Linked DNA regions of Homo sapiens. The protein of the gene in region 1 interacts with the protein of each later gene in a pairwise test. Each region holds a gene or a part of one and is shown in the gene's direction. Other genes may lie near its edges.

What was found. Proteins that work in one complex are often made in the same cells at the same time.
Region 2: the proteins of SEC23A (region 1) and DNM2 interact in binary tests that used the Homo sapiens proteins (3 or more experiments, as listed by UniProt).
Region 3: the proteins of SEC23A (region 1) and PIAS2 interact in binary tests that used the Homo sapiens proteins (3 or more experiments, as listed by UniProt).
Region 4: the proteins of SEC23A (region 1) and CDK16 interact in binary tests that used the Homo sapiens proteins (3 or more experiments, as listed by UniProt).

What each region holds. Positions count from the first base shown.
Region 1 is NC_000014.9:39,085,266-39,090,553, reverse strand, and holds part of SEC23A (protein transport protein Sec23A), read left to right. Parts: intron 1-3,545; coding exon 3,546-3,625; intron 3,626-4,647; coding exon 4,648-4,792; intron 4,793-5,288.
Region 2 is NC_000019.10:10,769,186-10,773,578, forward strand, and holds part of DNM2 (dynamin-2), read left to right. Parts: intron 1-3,293; coding exon 3,294-3,443; intron 3,444-4,393. UniProt on the Homo sapiens protein: Catalyzes the hydrolysis of GTP and utilizes this energy to mediate vesicle scission at plasma membrane during endocytosis and filament remodeling at many actin structures during organization of the actin cytoskeleton.
Region 3 is NC_000018.10:46,907,508-46,911,900, reverse strand, and holds part of PIAS2 (E3 SUMO-protein ligase PIAS2), read left to right. Parts: intron 1-4,393. UniProt on the Homo sapiens protein: Functions as an E3-type small ubiquitin-like modifier (SUMO) ligase, stabilizing the interaction between UBE2I and the substrate, and as a SUMO-tethering factor.
Region 4 is NC_000023.11:47,220,788-47,225,180, forward strand, and holds part of CDK16 (cyclin-dependent kinase 16), read left to right. Parts: exon of another isoform or gene 1-1,473; coding exon of another isoform or gene 1,474-1,555; exon of another isoform or gene 1,556-1,593; intron 1,594-2,263; exon of another isoform or gene 2,264-2,308; coding exon of another isoform or gene 2,309-2,524; intron 2,525-2,764; coding exon of another isoform or gene 2,765-2,770; coding exon 2,771-2,972; intron 2,973-3,597; coding exon 3,598-3,731; intron 3,732-3,830; coding exon 3,831-3,956; intron 3,957-4,046; coding exon 4,047-4,103; intron 4,104-4,200; coding exon 4,201-4,315; intron 4,316-4,393. UniProt on the Homo sapiens protein: Protein kinase that plays a role in vesicle-mediated transport processes and exocytosis. Regulates GH1 release by brain neurons. Phosphorylates NSF, and thereby regulates NSF oligomerization. Required for normal spermatogenesis.

The sequences.
Region 1 (5,288 bases):
GACGATTTTTAGTGTAGGAACTATGGTTACATATGTTTTTTAGTGGTTTTTATCACTGGGACAAATTGAAGCTTTCTCTTCCAAGGCAAAGGAGTTATGTGTAGCATACTAGGATCATCTGCTCAGATGAACATCTTTTTTTCTGCCCAGAGATTTTGATAGTCCATAAGAGAGTAATAAGTGAATGTCTGTTTGTATTGGGGGATAGTTGGTATATATACCTTATATATATAATATAAGATTGTTCATGTAGGTACTTTGAAAAAACTTTCTAAGTAATTCTGGTGCAACTCCTAGTTGAGAACATTTACCCTAGAAGATGATAGATAAGCCTGGCATAAAGTTGACAGATGTAAAATCAGACTTTAGAGGCTTCCAGGTAGACCAAAATGAAGAAGAAAGGAAGAGATTTTTGAGGGTGAGTCTAATTTGAAACTTGGCAGACTGAGGTAGTGGTGCTGCAGTTAACTAAGAGAACATACTAGGGGAATTTGCAGGTTTAAATGGGGAGGATAATGAGTAATGAATGCGTTAGTCAATGAATAGTGAATAAGATTTGAGAAGGTAGAGAAAGTTGAAATTTGTTCTTTTTCTTCTGAGACAAGAGTCTCGCTCTGTCACCCAGGCTGGACTGCATTGGCACAATCTTGGCTCACTGCAACCTCCGCCTCCCGGGTTCAAGCTATTCTCCTGCCTCAGCCTCTCGAGTAGCTGGGACTACTGGCACCCGCCATCATGCCCAGCTAATTTTGGTATTTTTGTAGAGACGTGGTTTCACTATGTTGGCCAGGCTGGTCTTGAACTCCTGACCTCAGGATATCCACCTTCCTCGGCCTCCCAGAGTGCTGGGACTACAGGAGTGAGCCACCGTGCTCGGCCTGAAGTTTGTTCTTTTAAGAGGTTTGTTGAAGGTAATGAAGGAGGAGATAGCATGGGAATTTGAGAGAGAACTGAGTTAAAGAGATGTACTTTAGGAGGAAGGAGAAAGGAAAGAGACTAAAGAGGGTGAGTTAAAGCAAGAGTGAGATGAGGAAAGTCAGGTTTAGGAAGACATAGTAGGGATTCCTTCAGGAGCACAGGAAGCGGAGTACCTTAGAGAGGAGAATCATGTTTCCATGAGACAGGAGAGAAAGTGAACCAGTTGAAATCTCTGTGCTTTAGTTTTTTTCAATTGTAAAATAGAGATAGTAATAGTATATACCTTATAGTGTAGTCATGAGAATTAAATGAATTGTACATTTAAGCATTTGCTACTATTAATGTTATTATTAAATTATGAATTTATTTAGAATAGTTTACTGTTCTGATTGTAGAGTACCTTTTACTTATATAATGCATATGAAGCACATAAAACATCTTCCTTTTTTTTTCTTTTTTTTTTTTTTTTTGACACGGAGTCTTGCTCTGTCACCCAGGCTGGAGTGCAGTGGCATGATCTTGCAATCTCCGCCTCCTTAGTTCGAGCGATTCTCCTGCCTCAGCCTCCCGAGTAGCTGGGACTACAGGCGCATGCCACCACACCCGGCTAATTTTTTTTTTCTGTATTTTTAGTAGAGACCGGGTTTCACCATGTTGGCCAGGATGGTCTTGATCTCCTGACCTCGTGATCTGCCTGCTTTGGCCTCCCAAAGTGCTGGGATTACAGGCGTGAGCCACCGCGCCTGGCCAATTTTTGTATTTTTTAGTAGAGACAAGGTTTCACCATGTTAGCCAGGCTGCTTGAATTCCTGAGCTCAGGTGATCCCCCTGCCTCAGCCTCCCAAAGTGCTGGGATTACAGGTGTGAGCCACTGAGGCCGGCCTAGTTTTTTTTTGTTTGTCTGAGACAGAGTCTCGCTCTGTCACCCGGGCTGGAGTGCGGTGGCACGATCTCAGCTCACTGCAACCTCTGCCTCTTGGGTTCAAGCGCTTCTCTTGCCTCAGCCTCCCAAGTAGCTGGGATTACAGGAGCATACCACCATGCCTTACTAATTTTTGTATTTTTAGTAGAGTTGGTGCTTCACCATGTTAGCCAAGGTTGGTCTTGAACTTCTGACCTTGTGATTTGCCCACCTTGACCTCCCAAAGTGCTGGGATTACAGGCATGATCCACCGCACCTGGCCCTAATTTTTGTATTTTTAGTAGACATGGGGTTTCACCATGTTGGCCAGGCTGGTCTTGAACTCCTGACCTCAGGTGATCCACCCGCCTCGGCCTCCCAAAATACTGGGATTACAGCTGTGATTCACTGCGCCTGGCCACATCTTCCTTTTTTCAATAGGCAAGTGAATGCCTGCAGACTGAATTTTTTTTCTCCATTGAAACATGTTTATTTTCTTTCCCTATTTAGATTAAATTTCCCTATTCTTTCCCTATTATTAGTTGAAAAGAGCCTGGCCTTTGCTCCCCAGATAGTCCTGGATTCAAATCTTAAACTCTTCTGGTTGTATGATCCTGGGTTTTTGTCTTTGCTGATTGTGTCATCCTTCATAGAAAGGAATAAACTACCTATTTTGCCAGGTTATTAGTACTAAATATGAAATTCTCAATATGGTGTAAACCCTTATAGAGCTTTATAGAAAAACCTGGATTTAAAATCTTGCTTTGTTACTTACTGATTGTGTAACCTCAGACAAATTACTTAGTCTTTCTGATTGTCAATTTTCATTTATAAAGTAGAATTTAAGAAGAAATCTATTTCATTATTGTTTTGTGAGGAAATAGTATATATAAAGGTTTTAGCATAGAATATGGAACATATTAAGTTCTTAGTAAAGAGTTGCTGTTTCTGCTAACAGTATAGGAAATATTGCAGGATTAGTTCACTAATTTTATCTTTGTACATCTTTAGACTTCAGTTTTCTGTTACACAGTTTTATAACTCCAGTACTTCATGACTAAGCATTTCTAGATTCAAGAAAAATTTAGTATAACATTATTTTCATTTGTCTAGAGAGAAATTGTGCACATATCTGAAATTCAAAACAAAGGTGGCAGTTCGTAGTTTGGTTATGAATTACATTAGAAAATCAAGATGTATATAGGTACAAAGTACGTGAGCCTTATAACTCCCCAAGTCCTAACATTTACTACTGTTGCAATTTTACATTTATTTATCTGTTGATTTGATTAATTTATGTTTCTGGATTTTAATTTCCATGAGGGAAGGGACTAGTTAGTTTTTACCATTGTATTCCTGCCACATAGCAGGTGCTTATGATATAGTTTGCTGAAACGGATGAATGAATATAAATTAAGAAGTATGGACATTTAAGTTACACAACAATTTATTTTGACTGTTAATTAGAAATAAAGTGTTTTTGAGCTAATATGCCTCCTCTTTGGTTATATAACACCTTGTGCTTTTCTCTCTCATGATGATTATTTTGTGTTATTGTTTTCTTGATAATCTCTCCCACTGGATTCTTTGTTTTCTGAGGAAGGAGACCTTGTATTTTTTATTTTTGTGTTTCTAATGTCTAGCACAGCATTTTATACATGATAAATAGTTGATAAATCTTTGTAAAAGTAATTAAATGAATATTGCACAAGTAATCTCTTTACAGGAAATGCTGGGGCTCTCTAAAGTACCACTTACTCAAGCAACACGTGGTCCTCAGGTACAGCAGCCACCTCCTTCCAACAGGTAATAAATATGATGAAGAGAATTTGACCGTTTCTGTAGCTATTTTAAACATTCCATACCCTTGAACATAGGCATTCAGTGATACTATATTGTTAAATATTTTTAGGAATATAAGTAAATTGTATTAACATACTTTTTAAAGAATTGAGTCAAAATCATGTCATTAAAATGGTTTGTTTTTTGTCTTAACAATGTAAGGAGTTACTTTAGTTTTGTTATTTTCCTTATTTTTTATTTTGAACTTTGGAAAAAACTTGTTTTTGTGTGGTTTTAGGGCAGCCAAGGTTTTTATTTTTTCTTCTTAGCTTTAGAGGTAGCTTTTCCCGCTAAGGTTTCTGGAGTGCAGTGGCATGATCTTGGCTCACTACAACTTCCGCCTCCCAGGTTCAAACAATTCTCCTGCCTCAGCCTCCCAAGTAGCTGGGATTACAGGCATGCACCACCATGCCTGGCTAATTTTTGTATTTTTTGTAGAGACGGGGTTTCACCATCCCAATCTCCTGACTTTATGATCCTCCCTCCTCGGCCTCCCAAAGTGCTGGGATTACAGGTGTGAGCCACCGCGCCCTGCTAGCTTTTTCCCCTAAGCTTTCTAATCAGAGGTAGTATTACTAAAATTTAGTTGATGTATTTTCTCATAATTATTTCAGTAACCTAAAACTTACTAGACTAGTGAGAGATGAAATCCTGAAGTACTTGGTTTGAGTGTTTCGTTTATTGTGGTTGTATTCAAAATGTGGTTTCTGGGGCTGTTATCATCACGTGTCACCTAGGAATGCGTTTGAAATGCAAATTCTTCGGCTCCACTCCAGACCTACCGAAACAAACTCTAGAACTGGGACCTAGCAATATGTGTTAAAACAAGCCCTCCAGCTGGTTCTCATATACACGAAAGTTTGAGAACCATTGGTCTGCTGTGTGTTCAGAGTGTTGTTTTCTATTTTTAGGAAAGTGAAATTTGTTTATCGAACTCTCACCCATAAACATTTACAAATGGCTTTTTATTTAATTCTGTTTCTTAGATTCTTACAACCAGTACAGAAAATAGACATGAATCTCACAGATCTTCTGGGAGAACTCCAGCGAGACCCTTGGCCTGTACCACAGGGAAAGAGACCTTTGCGTTCCTCTGGGGTGGCACTTTCCATAGCTGTAGGACTGCTGGAGGTAGGGAAGATGGTTTTGTTTTGGAATGTAAAGTGTGTGTGTGTGTGTGTGTGTGTGTGTGTGTGTGTGTGTATATATAATTATAAGGATAAGAAGAACCAAAGTGCTTTTTTTCCTCCCTATTCTCTCACTCAGCATCAACAAAGAATACTTCTATGGTTTTCCCCCACATACCAACCAAGCAGTTCTGCCTTCGATACCACCTGGGTGTCCTGTAATTCAGTTCAATTCTGATACTATCTAACTGGAGATAACATCACATCTCACAGATTGAGGGCTCAGTCCCACAAGACTGCCCCCACTTAAGTGCCAGTCACATAGTAGGTTGTCACCTATACTTCTCTGATAGACTGGCTGTAAATTGGACACTCTTGGGTTTGATTAATTTGCTAGAATGGCTCACAGAACTCTAGGAAACACTTTATGTTTCTCGGTTTATGATAAAGATATTACGAAGACTATAGATGAACAGTCAGATGGACTAGATGCATAGAGT
Region 2 (4,393 bases), on another chromosome or scaffold:
TCATACAGCCTGTTATGATGCGCATTTTACAGATCAGTAGACTGAGACCTGGGCAGGCCCTCTGACTACAGACTGAGCTCATTACTGCACACAGCGTGCTGCCAGTACATGCTGGGCTCTGGGGTGCTGGAGCCGCAGGTCCTGGCCCCATCAATACAATCCAAAGTGAGCTGGCTCTGATGAGGAAGAGGCCAAGATGCCCCACTCAGGGAAGTCTTCCTGGGAGAGGTGGTAGCCAGGCAGACCTGGGAGTAGGAGGAGGTAGGGCTGGGCTTTGTAGACACCACACTTGGTGGGACAGAGGCCTGCTAGGGAGAGGGCCTGTGTCCTTGCCACCAGCCCATCTTCCACGCCATGTCCCCCTGCACTCTTTGAAGGGAGATGGTCTCTTTTGGGGCTAAGCTGGGGTCCTGGAGCCAGAAGAGAACTGAGATTTGCTGTGGGGGGTTGGGAGCTGTTCCATTTTTAGTGGCTGCTACAGGAAGAGCGGCCGAGTGTTTCCCCTTGTCCCTGCAGAAGGCTGGAGTGTAACTGTCCTTGGGAACTGGGTCAGCTGATAGCAGGGCTGGGGGTGGGGGTGGGGATCCTGAATCCTCCAGCAGATGTCCTCATTGCCCTGATCTGGGTGGCCAGTGCCTGTGCTGGACACGGTCCTCAGTCATCGGAGCCCACTGAGTCTCCCCCTGACCCTGCAGAGAATTTCAAAGAGGCGAAGTTCCTTCCAGTGGCCTCACAAAGGCTATCTGGCTTAGGAGCCATTACCTGAAGCCAGAATTTCTGAGTTCCAAGTCCCAGCTCCATCACGGAACTTGGCCCAAGGCCCTTAACCCCTCTGGGCCTCAGTTTTGTCATCTTTGAAATGGGGATCTTAGAGATGCCTACCTGTCAAGGGACTTGTGAGGCGCAACGGGACCACACGCAGGGCCTGGCCAGAGTGCCGTAGTTTCTTCGGTTGCCATGATGGGACGGTGAAACTCCTCACACTCTTCTTTCTGCCTTGAAGATTCTAGACCTGGCTGGGTGTTCATCTCCCTTTTTGCCTTTGCTTGAGGCAGTTTATGGCATGGCTGTGTTATTCACGTCGCCAGGTCTCCTCCTGGTGGACGTTGAGGCCATTTTCATTTTTTTACTCTTAAAAACGACAGGGCAGTGCGCATCTTCGCATCTCCGGGGTGGGTCAGGTCTCTGACCTCTTTGCCAGTGTGACTTATTACCCCTTTCTTTCTTTGTTTTTCTTTTTGAGACAGTGTCTTGCTCTGTCGCCAGGCTGGAATGCAGTGGTGTGATCATAGATCATAGCTCACTGCAACCTCCAGCTCCTGGCTCAAATGATCCTCCCACTTCAGCCGATATTAATCCATTTTCATGCTGCTGATAAAGACGTATTTGAGACCGGGCAATTTACAAAAGAAAGAGGTTTAATGGAGTTACAGTTCCACACAGCTGGGCTGGGGAAGCCCCACAATCATGGCAGAAGGCAAGGAGGAGCAAGTCACATCTTATACGGATGGCAGCTGGCAAAGAGAGTGAGAGAGCTTCTGCAGGGAAACTCCTGTTTTTAAAACCATCAGATCTCGTGAGACTTATTCTCTATCACGAGAATAGCACGGGAAAGACCCACCCCCATGATTCATTGATCTCCCACTGGGTCCCTGCTACAACACAAGGGAATTATGGGAGCTACAAGATGAGATTTGGGTGGGGACACAGAGCCAGACCATATCAGCCTCCCAAGTAGCTGGAACTACAGGTGTGCGCCAACATGCCTGGCTAATTTTTTAAATTTCTGTAGAGACGGGGTCTCACTGTGTCACCCAGGCCGGTCTTGAACTCCTGGGCTCAAGTGATCCACCCTCCTCGGCGTCCCACAGTGCTGGATAATAGGCGTGAGCCACTGTGCCCAGCCATTTCCCCCTTATTTTTAGCATCACTACAGTAGCTGTGATCTCTGAGCTTTGGGGATATCCCCTCCCCAACATTTTACTCTGAAAATTCGAACATCTGGAAACGTCAAGGCTTTGTACAGTGGACACCTGTGTACTCGGCAGCCACCTTCCGTGATGAACATGCCTTATATTTGCTTTGTCCTCAATCTGTGATTCGGGACTGGATTTCTCTTGTTTCCTGGTGGGACCCACACTGCTTGTCAATTACTTATTTTGTTCCCCTTCATCCCAGTCTTGCTGTGACTTTCAGATACCCCCGGGTCTTATATACACTCAGGGTTATACCCAGAAAACATTTCTCCTGGGGGATTTGTCTCTAGGTAGGGGGCCCTCTTGAATAGTCAGGGGGAGAAAGAAAGACTCAAGACCAGCTCTGAGGAGGCGGCAGGGGTGCCCCTTCCCTCTACCTTGTGGGCTCCTTGGGGAAGAAGGACAAGTGAGTGCCATGAGAAATACCCCTGGGGATTTTGTGGAGCTGGAATGTGCTGGTGGACCATGAATCCACAAGGACTTGGGCATCGAACTCCCTTGACTGGGACCCACAGCAAGGGAGGCTCTGCAGCATCACCTTAATCAAATGGACTCACCCTCTCTGGGTGATGTATCCTGGTGCTTCCTCTTCTGTTCATCAGTCAATCAACAAATAAATGGCTGGGCGTGGAGGCATATGCCTGTAATCCCAGAAACTTTGGTCATTGGTTATGTCTACCTGTTTATTTTTGGGGGAGGGGGATTCATAATATGTCATGACGTATATTAACAGTTTGCAAAGTGCCACATGGGAACGTAATCTTCAGGATCTGGAAAGAGGCTCAGTCTATTCAGTCTATAGGAACCCCCGCCTCCCCCAAGACCCTTGTCATGAGAACGAATCTTTCACTCCCAAATTCCTAGAGTGACGATGATTGGGTCATTATTTTCTTTTTTATTTTATTTTATTTTATTTTATTTATTTTTTTATTTTTTTGAGATGGAGTCTTCTCTGTCTCCCAGGCTAGAGTGCAGTGGCGCAATCTCGGCTCACTACAACCTCCGCCTCCCGGGTTCAAGCAATTATCCTGCCTCAGCCTCCTGAGTAGCTGAGACTACAGGCATGTGCCACCATGCCAGGCTAATTTTTTGTATTTTTAGTAGAGACAGGGTTTCACCATGTTAGTGAGGATGGTCTGAATCTCCTGACCTTGTGATCTGCCCACCTCTGCCTCCCAAAGTGCTGGGATTACAGGCGTGAGCTACTGTGCCCAGCCTGGGTCATTACTTTCATTCAACAAAGCATTTCTCCCCGCAGTCCATGCGCACCCTGCCCACAGCTCTTTCTCATTTTCAGCATCTCTCTTCCCTTTCTAGAACATGCCGAGTTTTTGCACTGCAAGTCCAAAAAGTTTACAGACTTTGATGAAGTCCGGCAGGAGATTGAAGCAGAGACCGACAGGGTCACGGGGACCAACAAAGGCATCTCCCCAGTGCCCATCAACCTTCGAGTCTACTCGCCACACGGTAGGCAGCACGGGTGGGGACCCATCACTGACCGTTTCTGGTCGTTCATGGACAGTGCTATGGGTGAGCCTGTGTACTTCCACTCATGGGTATCATGTGCCCATTCACAAACAGTTGATATTCACACACACATAGCCCCTTGATCTGTATCTTCCCACTTGTGCTAGGTATGTAGTACCCAGACCTCTGTCTCAGCTTGAAGAAAGAGCATGCCAAGAAGTTGTTTGGAGTGGTGGGGGATTGCAGCCATTTCCCCCTTTTACCAAGGGCAGCCACCACTTGGCTCAAGGCAGCCAGATCTGCTGGTGCCTCAAGAGAGGCCAGAACCAGTCTTCTGTAAAATATCCTGGGTTTTTTTTTTTTTTTTTTGAGACAGAGTCTTGCTCTGTTGCCCAGTCTGGGGTTCAGTGGTGTGATCTCTGCTCGCTGCAACCTCCACCTCCCAGGTTCAAGCAATTATTGTGCCTCAGCCGCCCAAGTAGCTGGGATTACAGGCATGCACCACTACACCCAGCTAATTTTTTTTTTTTTTTTTTTGAGATGGAGTCTCGCTCTGTCGCCCAGACTGGAGTACAGTGGTGTGATCTCAGCTCACTGCAGTCTCCGCCTCCCAGGTTCAAGCTATTCTCCTGCCTCAGCCTCCCAAGTAGCTAGGACTAGAGGCAACTGCCGCCACGCCTGGCAAATTTTTTGTATTTTTAGTAGAGATGGGATTTCACCATATTGGCCAGGCTTGTCTCAAACTCCCGACCTTGTGATCTGCCCACTTTGGCCTCCCAAAATGCTGGGATTACAGACGTGAGCCGCCGCGCCCGGCCAAATTTTTTTTTTTTTTTTTGAGACAGAGTCTCGCTCTGTTGCCCAGGCTGGAGTGTAGTGGCGCAATCTCCACTCAATGCAACCTTCACCTCCCGGGTTCAAGCAATTCTCTGGCCTCAGCCTCCCGAGTA
Region 3 (4,393 bases), on another chromosome or scaffold:
TTTTGTATTTGTAATAGAGACAGGGTTTCACCATGTTGGTCAGGCTGGTCTTGAACTCCTGACCTCCGGTGATCCACTCCCCCTCCCTTGGCCTCCCAAAGTGGTGGGATTACAGGCATGAGCCGCTGAGCCCGGCCCCAGCCTTTGTTTTTGGTTAGTACTGTTACATTGGCAAGATTTATTGCATTTATATAATGTTTTATAACTCTTCTAAAGTTTTCTGTGCTTCTGCAGGAAAATCTAGAAATTGAGTACTAATAGCCACTCTTTTAAATATGTATGTTGACATGAGTATTAGTTACTATAGAACCAAGTACTGTGGAGCCATAGAGAAACTTCACTTCTGTTAAACCTGTGATCCTTAAAAAGGAAATATAACAAAGTCAGCCGGGCACAGTGGCTCACGTCTGTAAGCCCAGCACTTTGAGAGGCCCAGGCAGGCGGATCGCCTCAGGTCAGGAGTTAGAGACCAGCCTGGCTAACATGGTGAAACCCCGTCTCTACTAAAAATGCAAAAATTAGCCCGACGTGGTGGTGGGCACCTGTAATCCCAGCTACTCGGGAGGCTGAGGCAGGAGAATTGCTTGAACCCGGGAGGTGGAGGTTGCAGTGAGCCAAGATCATGTCATTGCACTCCAGGCTGGGTGACAAAGCAAGGCTTCGTCTCAGGAAAAAAAAAAAAAAAAGAAATATAACAAAGTCCTGGTTGAATGAGGAAAGCTCATTGAAGTTATTTTTAAAATTTAATATTATAATGGGTTCTCATGTTGTAGCCATTCAGCTTGTCTTGGTAGACTTTCCGGAGTCTTGGCCTGCCTTTTCTAATTTGGGAAGCTTAGTAGACCTGTTACCCAGCTGTCATCCTGGGATTACTTCACATTGTTCTCCTGGGTTAGATCTATTGTTATTTGGATCCCATGTTTTTCTCTTTTAGATACCTTTTTTATTTTACAGGAATACAGCCTTCAATAGTTGTTTCTGGAAGGATATGCTGGTGATAAACTTTCTGAGTTCTCGAATGTTGAAAATGGCTTGTCTTTGTTCCTGATTGAAAGTTTACATGTGGAATTATAAATTCCTCAGAATTTTGAAAACTTTGCTGTGGGAATCTAAAATACTTGGTGTGCTAATCAGAGGTCCATTGCAGATCTGATGGTTATTCTCCTGTAGAAGATTGTAATCTACAATTGTAGTCTACGATCTACGGGATTTGTTTACATTCTGAAAGGTTTCTTTGATTTTGTCTTTGAACTTTTCTATAAAATTTATTTCAGTAGTTATCTTTAATTTATAAGAGTTCTTCTATCATCTTTCATTTTTCTTTCTTTTTAAATAGCAACCTGTCCTTGATTTATGGGGAAATACCTTGAATTTCTCTGATGCTAATTTCTCTAGAGTTCTTGAGACACTTCCCTGAATTGGTGACTCTAACAGTGGGTTTGTATTTAGGTATTCCATACTAATTTTTGTATTTTAAATATTTAAGTTATTTGATAAGTACAAAAGATTATAACAGGTAAGGCGTATGTAAACAAACATACATATAATTACCAACCAGTTTACTAATTCATTAGTGTAACTTTAGCAGGATGCACTTTCCTGATCACATCCACTGCAACCATGTCCACCTTCACCAATGACAGTAGCCATTGTACTGAATTTTGGATTCATCATTCCTGGTCTGTCTTTATACTTTTAACATATATACATATGTAAAATTTATTTATTTATTTATTTATTTTTTGAGACGGAGTTTTGCTCTTCTTGCCCAGGCTGGAGTGCAGTGGCGCGATCTTGACTCACCGCAACCTCCTCCTCCCAGGTTCAAGCAATTTTACTGCCTCAGCCTCCCGAGTAGCCGGGATTACAGGTGTGCACCATGCCCGGCTAATTTTTTTGTATTATTAGTTTTCACCATGTTGGCCAGGCTGGTCTTGAACTCCTGACTTCAGGTGATCCACCCGCCTTGGCCTCCCAAAGTGCTGGGATCACAGGTGTGAGCTACTGTGTCTGGCCATCCATATTTCTTAAATCCAAATGTTTGAAAATGAAGAGAAAAAAACTGTAAAGTTTCACCAAACTTGTCTTGCAGAAAAACCCTGACCTGCACTGATATTGTAATCTTTGTTGATCTCACTTAGTGTGAATATTTGTATGTTTCACTGTAGAGATTCTAGGAATAGAATTGCTGGTATTTAAGAAGAATGTGTGCATATTCACCAATATTGGATAATGTCAGATTATCTTCCAAAAAAGGTGGTGTCAGTCTTCGTTCTCTCCAGCAATGCAGAAGTTTTCATTACTCAGCTTTCTTGCTAACATCTACTTTTGTCACACTTCAAAAGGTTTTATCGGTTGGGCATGGTAGCTCACGCCTGTAATCCTAGCACTTTGGGAGGCCATGGTGGGTGGATGGCTTGAGACCAGGAGTTTGAGACCAGCCTGGGTAAAATGGTGAAACCCCATCTCTACCAAAACAAAACAAAATTAGCTGGGCATAGTGGCCCACACCTGTAGTCCCAGCTACTTGGCAGGCTGAGATGGGAGGATCACCTGAAGCTAGGAAGTGAGCTGTGATCATGCCATTGCACGCCAGCTTGGGCAACAGAGTGAGACCCTGTTTCAAAAAAAAAAGTTTTTACCCACGAGTATAAAATACCACCTTTTAGTTTTCATTTGCTTTGCTAATGAGTTTGAGCATCTTTTACTATACTGATTAGCCATTCTTCCCTTTTCTCACATTCCTATTCATGTCTTTTGCCCATGTTTGTACTAGTTTTTTAAAAAAATTATTTCATACTGATTTTTAATAGTTTCACAGTTGGATGCATGTGGTGCAAATTTCTCCTTTCAATTGGGCTCACTTTTAAATCATTTTTATTTTTATTTTTTGAGATGGAGTCTCACTCTGTAGCCCTGGCTGGAGTGCAGTGGCGTGATCTCAGTTTACTGCACCCTCCACCCCCAAGGTTCAAGAGATTCTCCTGTCTCAGACTTCTGAGTAGCTGGGATTACAGGTACCCGCCACCATGCCTGGCTAATATTTGTATTTTTAATAGAGACGGGGTTTCACCATGTTGGTCAAGCTGGTCTCGAACTCCTGACCTCAGGTGATCTGCCCACCTTGGTCTCCCAAAGTGCTGGGATTATAGGCATGAGCAACTGCATCCAGCCTTATGCGTTTTTTGATGAGTAGAAGTTCTTAATTTTTATGTGATTGCATTTATCAGGCTTTTCTTTATGGATAGTGCTTTTGAATCTTGTTGAAGAAATTTTTCAACAGAGTTCTCGAAGATATTTTCCATTATTGTAAAAGTATAAGACGTAGTTTTTTTGTTTTTTGTTTTTGTTTTTTTTTTACCTTTTCTCATTTAAGGTTTTAATCCACCTGGAGTTGATTTTGTATACAGTGTGAAGTGGTGACCAAGATGCATGGTTTTTCCTCAAAGAATAATAAATTGTTCCATCACCTTTCATGCAAATTTTTTTCTTCACTGGTTTGGATGCCATCACTCATCTGTGCTTTGGTTCTGGACTCTGGGCCGTTAGTCTGTTTTTACAGAAATTGTTAAAAAGTTACAGTAACTAAAACAAGATGATGCTGCTGCTAGCATAAACAAACTTCTTGCCTGGTGAGGTGGCTCAAGGCTGTAATCCCATCACTTTGGGAGGCCATGGTGGGAGCATCACTTGAGCCAGGAGTTCAAGACCAGCCTGGGCAACATGGTGAGACCCCATCTCTGTGTAAGATAATATTTTTTATAATAAAAAACCAAACTTCTTTTGATATATAGCATACACATAGGAAGTACACAGATAATGAAATTATAGCTGGATGAATTTTCTCAAAATAATAATCGTGCAGGTCAAGAAAGAGAACATTACCAGCACTCTAAATATTCCCCTCCCCAGTGGCTAACCTCACCTCATTCTTCCAAAAGCGACCTACTATCCTAACTTTAACAGATTAGTATTGCCTGTTTTTGAACTTTATATAAATGGAACCTGTGTAGTATATATACAGTTGCCCCTTGGTGTACCTGGGGGATTGGTTCTAGGATCCACCCTCCCAACAGGAAAATCATGTGTACTCAAGTCCTGAAGTTGGCCCTGCAGAACCCATGTATAGGAAAAGTTGGCCCTCTGTATATGTGGGTTTCACGTCCTGCAAATACCATATTTTTGATCTGCATTTGGTTGAAAAAAAAATATGCGTATAAGTGGACCTGCACAGTTCAAACCAGTTGACAAGATACAGTTGACCTTTGACTAACACAGGTTTTTGTTATTGGATATGTTATTGTTATTCAATATTCAACTATATGTTATTGTTATTCAAAGGTCAACTGTATTCTGTTTCTGTATATGTATTCTGTTGTTTCTGCCTTTTTTT
Region 4 (4,393 bases), on another chromosome or scaffold:
TTTATGTTAATAGCATTCAGAGCAGCATGAAGAAGGTCCAGTGAGTGCTAATGTGGGTCAGCTATAGAGTACCCCAAGTGCATGTTAATAGAGGTCAGAATCATGTAGGGGGAACAGTACGTTAATGAGGGGAGTCAGTACTATGGAGAAGGTAACAAGCAGCTAGGCCAGGGAGGGGCCCAAGAATGTGGTGGCAAGAGTTACTTAGAGGAGGCTAAGTGTGTGCTGACAGAGTTCAGGGCGGTATGTTATGTGTTAGGGCTTTGAATGCTGATGGGTATATGAGATAATAGCAGGTAAGATGTAGTGAGGCCTCCTTGAGGGTCTAGCGTGTATTAATGGGGATCAGGACATAGGGTGCGATGACCAAGTCCTTAGTGGTTGGTGTGTTGAGTATCCTTGAGTATGAGAGTAGTCTGAGGATGGGTGTATGTCTTTGGGGATCAGGAAGGGTCAGGCAGGACATGTGCCTTTTTTGGGGTAAGGTTTTATGTCCAGTTTCTTGCTCCCTCCTTTTTTGAAATCTAAAAAGCTCATTCAACTGAAATGATATTTAAAAGTTTCCTTGCGTATAAATGTTCAATTATCTCTGTTCACAGGGGCATGTCTGAGACCCCCATCCCCCTTTCTGGGAGTGTTATGTGATATACAGATTTTACACCCCATCTTCCTAAAATCCCAAAAAACTGAACTCCAGAGCATGTCCAGCCCTTGGGGTTTCCAGTTAGAGGTCGTGGACCCATGGCTCCTCCTGGCTTCCTCCCCATCCTCCATTCAGCCCTACTTCCAGTCTCCCCCAGCCCCTCCCCTACTCCCTGTCACAACATGCAAAGCAACTGGGTATCTGTGCCATATGGGGACACAAGGTTGTCTTTGGGAGCTGGCCATGCTTTACCTTCCTTGCCTTAGGCCCAGTATTCAGCCTCCCAGGTCAGGATGTTTTGTGGTTATCCTGGGTTCTCCATGGATGGACCTCATCCTGTATCTGAGGTCTTTCTGCTAGGGTGGCCCCTACCCCTCCTGGGGATAGTGAGTTCAGCCAGGTGGGGGCGAGAACTGCTGGGGGAAGCACCTGATTTCAAGGTAGCAGATGACCCATTTCTCTCCTCAAATCCAGCCCCAGTCTCATCCTCGACCTCCTATCTAGCTCTACTTCCCTTGGGCCCAGGGCCATCTTAGGCCCTGCTGTGAGTCCAGATGGTTCCTGGGTCAGGTCTTTCCCCCTCCTTGCTGGCCCAGAGCCCAAGAGGAAGCAGAAGACGGCTGGCCTAAGCCTTTTGGTGGCCCCATTCCCTTCAGCAATCCATCTAGGTCATCTTCCTGTCGATGCCAGCATCCCTGGGCTACCTTGTTTAGGGTTGTTCAATGAATAGCAGGGACTCATCACCTCAGCAGAGGTTGGTCCTAGGCCCTCAGCCCCCTGATTCACTTATTTCTGCCATAAGCACTTTTTGAGCATCTACTCTGTGTCAGTCACTATTCCAGGTCCTCAGGATATAGCCGTGACCTAAACACAGAAATCTACCCTGGCGGAGCTGATCTTCTAGTTGTGGCGGTGAGGAGATAGACAGTAAAGACTAAAGAAACCAATAAGTAGGTGGTGTCATTTCTGAGGAGGTAATGAGTGCTGGGGGGATAACTGGCAAGGTGAGGGAGTTCGGGATGGTTGAGATTTTAAATAGGGTTATTCACAGAGGCCTCATGAAAAAGGTGACCTTTGAGCAATGGCCCAAAGGGAGAGGGGAGTGAGCCATTTCGAAATTTAGGGGAAGGGTGTTCCAGGTACCAGGAACAGCCAGTGTAAAGGCCCCGAGGTGGGACTCTACTGGGTGTGGTTGCAGAACAGCAACTAGGAATGATGGCGGGGGGGTGTGGGGGTGGGGGGGGGCCGTGGGCAAGAGGCAATAGGGGCAAATGAGGTAAAGAAACACCTGTGGGCCACATTGAGGACTGGGGCGTGTATTTGGGGTGATGAAAAATGTACATTCTTGAGTAGAGGAGAAATGTGACTTGGCTTGTAAAAGTCTAGATTGGACCCTAGGGGTCCTAACCTGATCAAACCGTTCTGGCAGCCCTGAGAAGAGCTGGTGTACACTGAGACCCCCCCGCCCTCCACACAATCCCACCCAGTGGTTGGGTCTGGGCAGGACACCCTGACACACGCTCCCCTCCCCCCCCCCACCTGGGTAGATGAATGGGATGATGCAGTGGTTGTCATGACGATGAGTGCTAGAGAAGTCAGGAAGAGGGTCCCTGTGGCCACAGGGAATAGTCTGCCTTGGCCTTTGAGGGTGGTGCTAGGGGAACTATGCCACTCTATGGCCGTGCTCGAGACCATGTCACCCATCCTTCAATTCTGGGCACACGCCCTGGCCGACCCATGGCTGGGCCCATCACTGCAGCTGTACCTGAGAAGATCTGCAATGGAGCCTTCTGCTCCTGCAGTGGGGCTTTTCCCCTAGATCCCAACAATCCATCGTTAGGGCCCTTGCCCTCAATCAGCCACCTAAATCTGAGAACTCAGGTGGGCTACGTAGGAGCAGGGTCCCAGTGGGGCTGGCTGTGTGGGTGGGCAGGTACTGACAAAGATCCCCATCCATGCTGGGTTTCCAGAACTCCTGAGTGGCTCTGGGGTCCATAGTGGTTGAGTGAGCACTGACAAGTTCATGTCAGTGCCCCCTGCTAGGCTGTGGGCTTTAGGGAACCCATGGTGATCAAGCAAATGCTAATAAGAGACCCATTTCCATCCTTGTCCCTTGCTCAGATCGCCATGGATCGGATGAAGAAGATCAAACGGCAGCTGTCAATGACACTCCGAGGTGGCCGAGGCATAGACAAGACCAATGGTGCCCCTGAGCAGATAGGCCTGGATGAGAGTGGTGGTGGTGGCGGCAGTGACCCTGGAGAGGCCCCCACACGTGCTGCTCCTGGGGAACTTCGTTCTGCACGGGGCCCACTCAGCTCTGCACCAGGTGGGTCCACTGGCTATCCCCTCTCCCATATGGCCCCAGGCTGCTTCCCAGGTGTTGCCTCCTGGTCACATTCCTCATTTTCCTCTAAATTTTCTGCCCTTTCTCTGCCCCCCATGTGCTCTCTTCTCCCCCTTCCCTCCCATCTTCTCTCAACACCGTCTGTCTATCTGTCCATCTGCGCTCCTCTTCTTGCCTTTCTGCCCAGGCCCCGTGGTGGGGGACAGAAGGTGCCTTGCCTGTCACAGCTGCCCCAAGGCTCCCTCTGCCCTTCTGCCCTCTATGATGGCCTCCTCAGTCCTCTGGTACCTGCCTGCCCTGGGCCTGCCTTCCCAGGACCCTTGGCTTCCCCTGCCACCACCTAGCTGCCGGCTCTGAGCTCAGCTTGCCCTTGGAAGGAAGGGTTCCACTAGGTGACTTTTGCTTCCCCACCCCCCAGTTCAACCTGCCCTAGATGTACCTGAGCTTCCCTGGGCTCAGGTACATCACCCTCTCCCCGAGGGACTCCAGGTTTCCTGTGGGGGCCACGTGCACACATGTGTGATGATGGAATATGTTTCGTGGGGGATGGGGTGTCCTGTGGTTCCTGACCCCACCTGGCCTGCCCTACCCCTCTCCCTGCCACCAGAGATTGTGCACGAGGACTTGAAGATGGGGTCTGATGGGGAGAGTGACCAGGCTTCAGCCACGTCCTCGGATGAGGTGCAGTCTCCAGTGAGAGTGCGTATGCGCAACCATCCCCCACGCAAGATCTCCACTGAGGTGCTTGACCCCGTCTGGATGGTGGAGGAACTGGAAAAGGGGGTTGGACCTGGGGAGGTGGAGCTCATGATCCTGTTTCTCTCTTGCCTTACCTGCTAGGACATCAACAAGCGCCTATCACTACCAGCTGACATCCGGCTGCCTGAGGGCTACCTGGAGAAGCTGACCCTCAATAGCCCCATCTTTGACAAGCCCCTCAGCCGCCGCCTCCGTCGTGTCAGCCTAGTAAGCACCTTCTGTTCCCGTCCTCTCCTTTTTCTTCTCTCCCAGACCCTTCTCCTGAGCCAGCTTTAACCTGCCTCATTTGTCCCACAGTCTGAGATTGGCTTTGGGAAACTGGAGACCTACATTAAGCTGGACAAACTGGGCGAGGTGAGAGGCAAATAGGAGGCCCATGGTGGGGATGAAGGTCAGTGGGAACTCCTGGAATCTCATAGCACCTCTCCTGTCACACTTCCTCACATTCCAGGGTACCTATGCCACCGTCTACAAAGGCAAAAGCAAGCTCACAGACAACCTTGTGGCACTCAAGGAGATCAGACTGGAACATGAAGAGGGGGCACCCTGCACCGCCATCCGGGAAGGTACACACCCCCATCCCATCTGCCCCAGGCTTCCCCAACCCACCCCTGGCGCACACACTCCATAATGAGAACAAAGAC